Linked DNA regions of Homo sapiens: region 1 is reported to be linked to region 2. Evidence: microRNA targets listed by miRTarBase, many of them from high-throughput screens and not tested one by one. Region 2 holds a microRNA gene; the other region holds the end of a gene's coding sequence.
The links. Region 2 holds the annotated microRNA hsa-miR-4520-3p (UUGGACAGAAAACACGCAGGAA, at 1,130-1,151, opposite strand). A microRNA usually pairs through its seed, bases 2 to 8, with sites in the 3' UTR of a target mRNA and lowers its output. Matches are read on the target gene's strand: a 7mer-m8 pairs with bases 2 to 8, a 7mer-A1 pairs with bases 2 to 7 and ends in A, and an 8mer does both.

Region 1: the mRNA of DPY19L3 is a reported target of hsa-miR-4520-3p. The part of its 3' UTR that is shown has no 7-base or 8-base seed match.

Annotation. Positions count from the first base shown.
Region 1 is chr19:32,481,687-32,484,686 of GRCh38, reverse strand. DPY19L3 (dpy-19 like C-mannosyltransferase 3) reads right to left here. Exons shown (of 19, transcript NM_001172774.2): 19 at 1-2,608. The coding sequence ends at 2,447. Among named protein-coding and RNA genes, the nearest start is that of DPY19L3, 77 kb to the right of the region's middle.
Region 2 is chr17:6,654,318-6,657,837 of GRCh38, forward strand. MIR4520-1 (microRNA 4520-1) reads right to left here and starts at 1,192; the gene lies at 1,123-1,192. It overlaps MIR4520-2 (microRNA 4520-2), which reads left to right and starts at 1,132; the gene lies at 1,132-1,185. It also overlaps the pseudogene ALOX15P1. RefSeq lists enhancers at 790-1,362, 2,640-3,276, 3,051-3,100.

The DNA.
Region 1 (3,000 bases), not on the chromosome of region 2:
GCGCTGAGAACACCAGAGAACAGCCTCCAGCTGTGCTGTGGCAGGTGGCTTACGAGAGAGATGGAGACTCCGGGGCCTGGGAGTCACACAGGCAGAGTCCGTTAAGAGCACTTCTATTGTACTTAGAGGGTCTTCTGACTGCTAACTCAGAAGCAAAATCAAGTGGGTTTTCTGTCAATAGAAAACAGAGCCATTCTTTGAGGTTATCACCACCCAGGTCTGAGTGGCGGGGAGCTGCTGCCGCGGGTCTCTTGCTTCGGCCTGGTAGAGAGGCTGTAAGCCAGAGCTAGAAGTCAGATGCTCTTCTTTGCTTTCCTTCTGTGTACTCCAATGAGAAGGTCACATTGGAGAATACTGATGAGTGCTAAAAATATTTATTAATAACATGATTCGTTGAGAGATTTGGTCATCAGGAAATAGCTACTGTACATGGTCACAGTGTCTTGGAAAGAGTGTTAAGTATGGATTCTGTCTTGCAAGATTTTTTTGGCACTTTATATTTTTCACTGAAGACTGAGCACTAAAGGTGCTGGCAACAATGACACCTAAACTATGAAAAAAAAAATCACTGTTTGCCATCATTGCGGTGATAAGCATAAAAATTTAAGTACGTGTTTCTTGTATATTAAGACTCCAAATGCCCAAATGCTTAGATGAATACATACAGGAATATTTAAAATAAATTTAAATATAGCCATAACAGAGGATTTTGAAAACAAAATCACAGAGTCTAACATATTGTACCTTACGTGTGCTTGGTTTCAATTAGAGTAAGGCACTCGCTGAAGGATGTACTGACCCATGCTGTCAGCTACAACAGGCATGCATCATTATTGGCTTAATTAAAGTTTTAGTACTGATTAAAACGTTTTATTATTGTATTATCCTAAACGGCAGTGGTCTCCAATCTTATTAAGGGATACAGAAAAGATATAATTCAGGAGTTTCAGTTGCATAATTTAATAACCCAGCTACTGTCAATTTTTTATTTAAACAAGTTTTGATAAAAGCTGAGTCTGCTTGTGTCCAACATGACAGTGTAAAAGACTTTTTGAATGCTGCTTTATAAGTAGCAACTGAATATAAAATCATTTGAAAATGTGATGCAGCCATCTTGATGCCTATGGTAATTTACTTCAATACAACTGCAAGGAGAAATGCTTAAATCATTTCCACCTGGCAAGAACAGGGGAGAAAGTTAATTCCATTAGCCATCTTGATTTAATTAAATGCATACTATGTTCTTACTGGCAACTTTTACATGTCCTCATCATTAGAAATTAATTATATAAGCGATTATCAAAAAAATTTTGAGCAGGTACATATACTCTTCTTTGTTGTTTACAAATAAGCATGACTTAGAGGCACTTGGTTACCTTTTAATAAGGAAAAGAATTACACTACCAGGGCCTTCCCAGTAAGATTGGAGACCACAAGTCAAACTTGGTATGAAAATGCTGTCTGAAAATGCTGTCTGCTAAAAATACTGTATTAGTGAACTAGTTAAGATAGAACATTTAAAAAATATTCAGACTTTGCAAGATTCTAGGCTGTAAAAAATACAAAGGCTAAAAACACAAAAAGTTTACAAAATTTTGCAAACCCAATAAATTGAAATGAGTAAGAAATAAAGCAAAACTATTACTGCAGGAGAGGTTAAAGAGTATCAGTAAGTTTTAAAATAATAACACTAAAATGTAATAAATTCTACTTGGCTACATATATTTCTGCCCCTTTAAGGACTTACGATATGGAACTTGTAACACTTTTCTGTGCCCAGCATTAAAACACATGTGTGCACATGCACACACACAGACACACACAATACATGACACATACTGCTGAAGTACTCCACATTACATTTCAGACAGAGTGTAACAAAATGTTTGATACAAAGCCTTAACATGATTTTTTTTGTTAATGTTGACAGCATGACAACTGGAAAATATTATAACATTTTAAGGTAAAACAGGACACTAAAGTGCTTTTTAAAAAGCTACCAATTGGTCTTCACCAGTGAAATCATATTAAATAAGTCGATCATCATCTCTAGTTGATTCAATCATAGCTGTCTTAAGTCACCTGAAAATTAAACGTATTTCAAATCCTGAGCAGGTGCTCATCTTCCAACATGTTATGTGCCTATCCAGGTATCCATGGAACACACATCATTCTCTCCAACAACATAATTCTAGGTCACTCTTAGAAAGTTGTTAACATTTAGGCTAAAGAACATTAATGAGAAAGATAGACACACAACGAAAAAGACTTCTGCTTGTAGAAGATGCTTTCAAAGATGGCAACACTTGTGTAAACATCTGTAGAACTTACTCATATCACAGCTTGAAGGTTTGGGCTACCTACTTACATAGGAAACGTCATCTATTGAGTTTCATCATGATGCAGTTTCTCCGTATCAAAAATAGACACTGGGCAGAAATCTGCGCTACTTGTTTCTGGACAGCTTGTAAACGTGGAAGGTTTTGTTCTGGAACACTCTGGTGAAGTAGGCCACGTAGGGAGGCAGGTTTCTTTTGATCTCTTCACAGAAGCGAGGGTGGTCTGCAGGTTTCAAATCAGGATCATTCTCTCCTGGGCCATCCATCATCTAAAACCAAAACAAACCCAAATACAATTTGGGGGGAAAATTCTATTTACAAAAGACAGTAGGAGCAGGAATGGGTATTGGGTTTAAGAATGGTATGTGAGTGAAATTAAATTATATTATTTCAATGTCCATGGGCACCTGGAGATCATCAGGGCCATCCTTTTCCCCCTTCAGAAGTGCAGACCAAGGCTGAGAAGGAGAGTGCAGCGTCACACGATGATCCCATTAACGGGAAAGCCAGAACTAGAACTCAGGTCTGCTTGCTCTCAGGAACATACTATACTGTCTCTCTCATAGAAATGAAATACAGAGAACTACAGTGATCAGAGAAAGCTCTCTAACTCATCAGAAAAAGTCACATTTAGGCCAGGCGTGGTGGCTCATGCCTGAAA
Region 2 (3,520 bases):
TGATCTCTAAGGTAGGCTGTAATAACTGTGGCTTCCCCTATTTTAATAATGCATTGTAACAATTGTTAACAGTGATTAAGTTTCGCAAAAGCACGTGCTGAATCAGTTAAGAAAAACTTAGGATGCAAGCTGAACAAGAGACTCCAGAGAGCCTAAAAGATGATGGAACATATGCATATATAAGAATCACAAGTAACACAATGATACACAGGTCTGGCGACGATATTTCAAACGTATGCAAGCTCATGTGAGAAGCAGAAAACCAATCAAGGACACGCTTTAAGACACAAGGAGGACACGCTTTAAGACACAAGTCCTCTCCCTTAGTCTCGCCCACGCTGGGAAGCTGGTGGGGTCGTGTTTGAATAGCAAAGGTGTGCGAACAAACCAAATTAGGAAAACTGCAGAGTACCTTAGCCTTTCTAGACGCTGCAAGAGCCTTCTCTCCTCCCTGTCCAAATACTAATCCTGCCGGGAGTGAGGCCTGGAAGGAGGCCCAGGGGAAGCGGGAGAAGAGGTCTGGGCCAAGGAGAGTTCTATCTGCGAAGACTCCAGGCTCAGAGCGCTACTCACCTGTCTCCAGGGCGACGGCAGCGGCCATAACAGGCAAAGACAGCGAATCGCCACCTGCCTAACAGAGGAAAAGCCCGGAGGGGCGGGAGGAGTTCCGGAAACCACGGCTCCCTCTTGCGGTCCCGGGGCACCGAGGAATATGGGGACGGTGGCTCCGCTCATCCCCGGCCAGGCCCGCTTAGCCCGCGCTGGCTCCGGAATGGCGAGGGGGCGGTGCCGGGCTGTGGGAGCGCCTGAGGGGCAGGAGTCCAGGGAGGCAGACTTTTACCCTCAAAAGGAATGAGTCCCAGAGCCTGGCACAAGGAAGACAAGTGTGCAAAGTTGGTGGAATGAATTCGGTGGCCTAAATGTACCTTCCTCAAATGCCACGGCTGACTGGGTCTCCTCGCCCACTTCACCCTCTCTTGCAATCCAACTTGTGAGGCGTGTGTGTGTGTGTGCATGTCCGCGCTTGCCTTTAGATGGAGGTTGGCTTCCCAGCCATCCAGGCTTGCATACACGTGCATAACTCCTACCCCTACCTCGCCTGCCTGCTGTACCAGGGGTTGATTCCTTCTTCCTGCGTGTTTTCTGTCCAAATCCTTTTCTGATTTGGACAGAAAACACGCAGGTGGCACACAGTAAGCGCTTAATAAATTTTCCGGCTACCTGATCTTCTTGGAATTGAGGGCATGCTCCTGTGCGCCCCTCATTGCACAGAGCTCCCTTGTCTGGAAACTCAGCAGTCACCGGAGCCGCCGTCGGTCCTCTCGCTTTCTCTATTTTAAAAAACGTTTCAACCGCTAGCGCTGTTGGATCTCTACCTTTCAGGCTTTATCACCTGGGGTGGAGTGGGTGGTGAGAGGGAAGGGATGGGGAGTCAAGACAGGAGAACGCTCTCGATTTCCCGACCCACCTCCCGTCATATCTCATGTCATATCTACCGGGTGTTCTACCCGGTCCTGTTACTTTTTTTCTTCCGCGAAAGCCCAAATTCCCATCACTGCTCTAGCTCTCTCCCAGATCGCCAAATCCGGATGTCTGTCTCAGGGAACGTCAAAGCAACATGCCCGGATGAGGTCCTCCCCTCTCCCCACCTCCCAGCCCTCTCCTCCTGCCTCCCCCGGTGTCACCCGCGCCTCCTTCCTCTCTTCACCTCCCTCTAAACAAGAATCCGGCGCAGTCAGTTCTAGACCCTGAGCATCTCCCGCGTCCCTGCCCAATATCCGTCCCGCCCCCGATCGCCCGCGTCCTCTTGAACCTGCGGAGCCCTGCTCCCCGCACTCCACGCCCTTGCTCCGAGCTTCCGAGAAAGCGGGGCAAAGGGAGCCAGAAAGAGAGAAAATGCGCACGGAGCAGGTGGCCCCGCGACTCCATGGTGAGGGGACGGGGCACGGAAGGTGGAAAGGCGCGCTCCCTCCTCCCTTTTTTCCTCCCTATGGTGGGCAGTTGGTGACACACAGTAAACGCTCAATAAATGTTTCCGCTACTCGATCTCCTTGGAATTAAGGGGATGCTCCTGAGCGCCCCTCATTCCACACAGCTCTGGTGCCTGGAAACTGCGGTCGCCGGAGCGGTCGTCGGTCCTCCCGGTTTCTCTATTTTAAAAGCCATTTCAAACCTCCAGCGGCCTCGCCACCTCTGCTGCAGACCTTCCAAGCCCTTCTGAAGCCGGAATGATTTCTCCCTAATTCACTCCCCCTGCTTAACACATTCGAACGGCTCCCGCTTGTTCTCGGGACCAAATCCAAAGCCCCTGGCGCCACCTTCGAGAGCCTCCGGACCTGCTGACCCCCCACACCTGGGCTCTGAGCTCCAGATCCAAGATGCTGCTCGCCCTCCCTTCCCCGCCGCTCTCTTTCTGCGCGCCTTTCCCCTGCCTTCCCTTTCTGTCACTCTCCCTGGCTGAGCCCTCTCCGCCTCCAGGTCTCCGGGAAGGTTGTCCCCAGGCCGGTGGGGCCCCTGCAGGTCCTCAGCCTCGGGCGGGGTGGGGTGGAGGGGTCGCACAGCGGGAATTGCCACCAGCGCGTCCGGGCTCCACAGCGCGCTCGTCCAGGGCGCGGCAGCGCTCAGCCCAGCGCTTGGCACAGTCAGTGACCACAGGGAGGAGAAAGTGAAGGCAGGAGCGCACCTTCCCACCTGCCGTCCCCGTCCCCTCAGAACCGAGTCCTGGGGCCACCTGCTCGGCGCGGTCCCTCTCTCTCTGGCTCAGTCCCCCCACCCCGATACGTCTCCTCCTCTCAGAGGCTCCGAGGAAGGGCGTGGGCGCTGGAGGGAGCAGGGCTCAGCCGGGTGCCCCTCCCGCCAGGCCCCACCGGGGCTGAGCCTCTTCTGTCGCCCGCAGGAGACAGAACTCAAGGTGGAAGTACCGGAGTACCTGGGGCCGCTGATGTTTGTGAAACTGCGCAAACGTCACTTCCTTCAGGTTCTGCAGCTGGATCTCCGTGTAGGGCCCCGGAGCCGGGGACGAGGTCAGGTTCCCTTGTTACCGCTGGGTGGAGGTCGACGGCGTCCTGAGCCTGCCTGAAGGCACCAGTAAGCGCGGGGCTGGGGGTGTCAGGAGGCCTCTGGGGTGCGAGAGAAGCTGGGGGGATGCGCGTGTGGAGAAGAGGGCGCAGGATGGGGGTGCTGGAACCTGGAGCGCAGGGCTCTTTGGGAGTGTCGAAGGGGCTGTGGCTGCAGCTGGCACAAAGTGGCTGGAGCCTGGGGGAGGGGCGTGATGCTGAAGAGGCAGGGGTCACACAGAAGGACGGAGTGATGAGGCTCTCCTGGCAGGGGCGAGAAGAGGCGCTCACCAAAAGTCACTGGCCAAGCCCTCCTCTGGCCTTCTAGGCCGTACTGTGGGCGACGACCCTCGAGGCCTGTTCCAGAAACACCAGGAAGAGGAGCTGGAAGAGAGAAGGAAGTTGTACCGGTGAGCCCTCCTCCCCTGACCCCACGTGAGCTGCTGATGCTTCCAGCACCCACG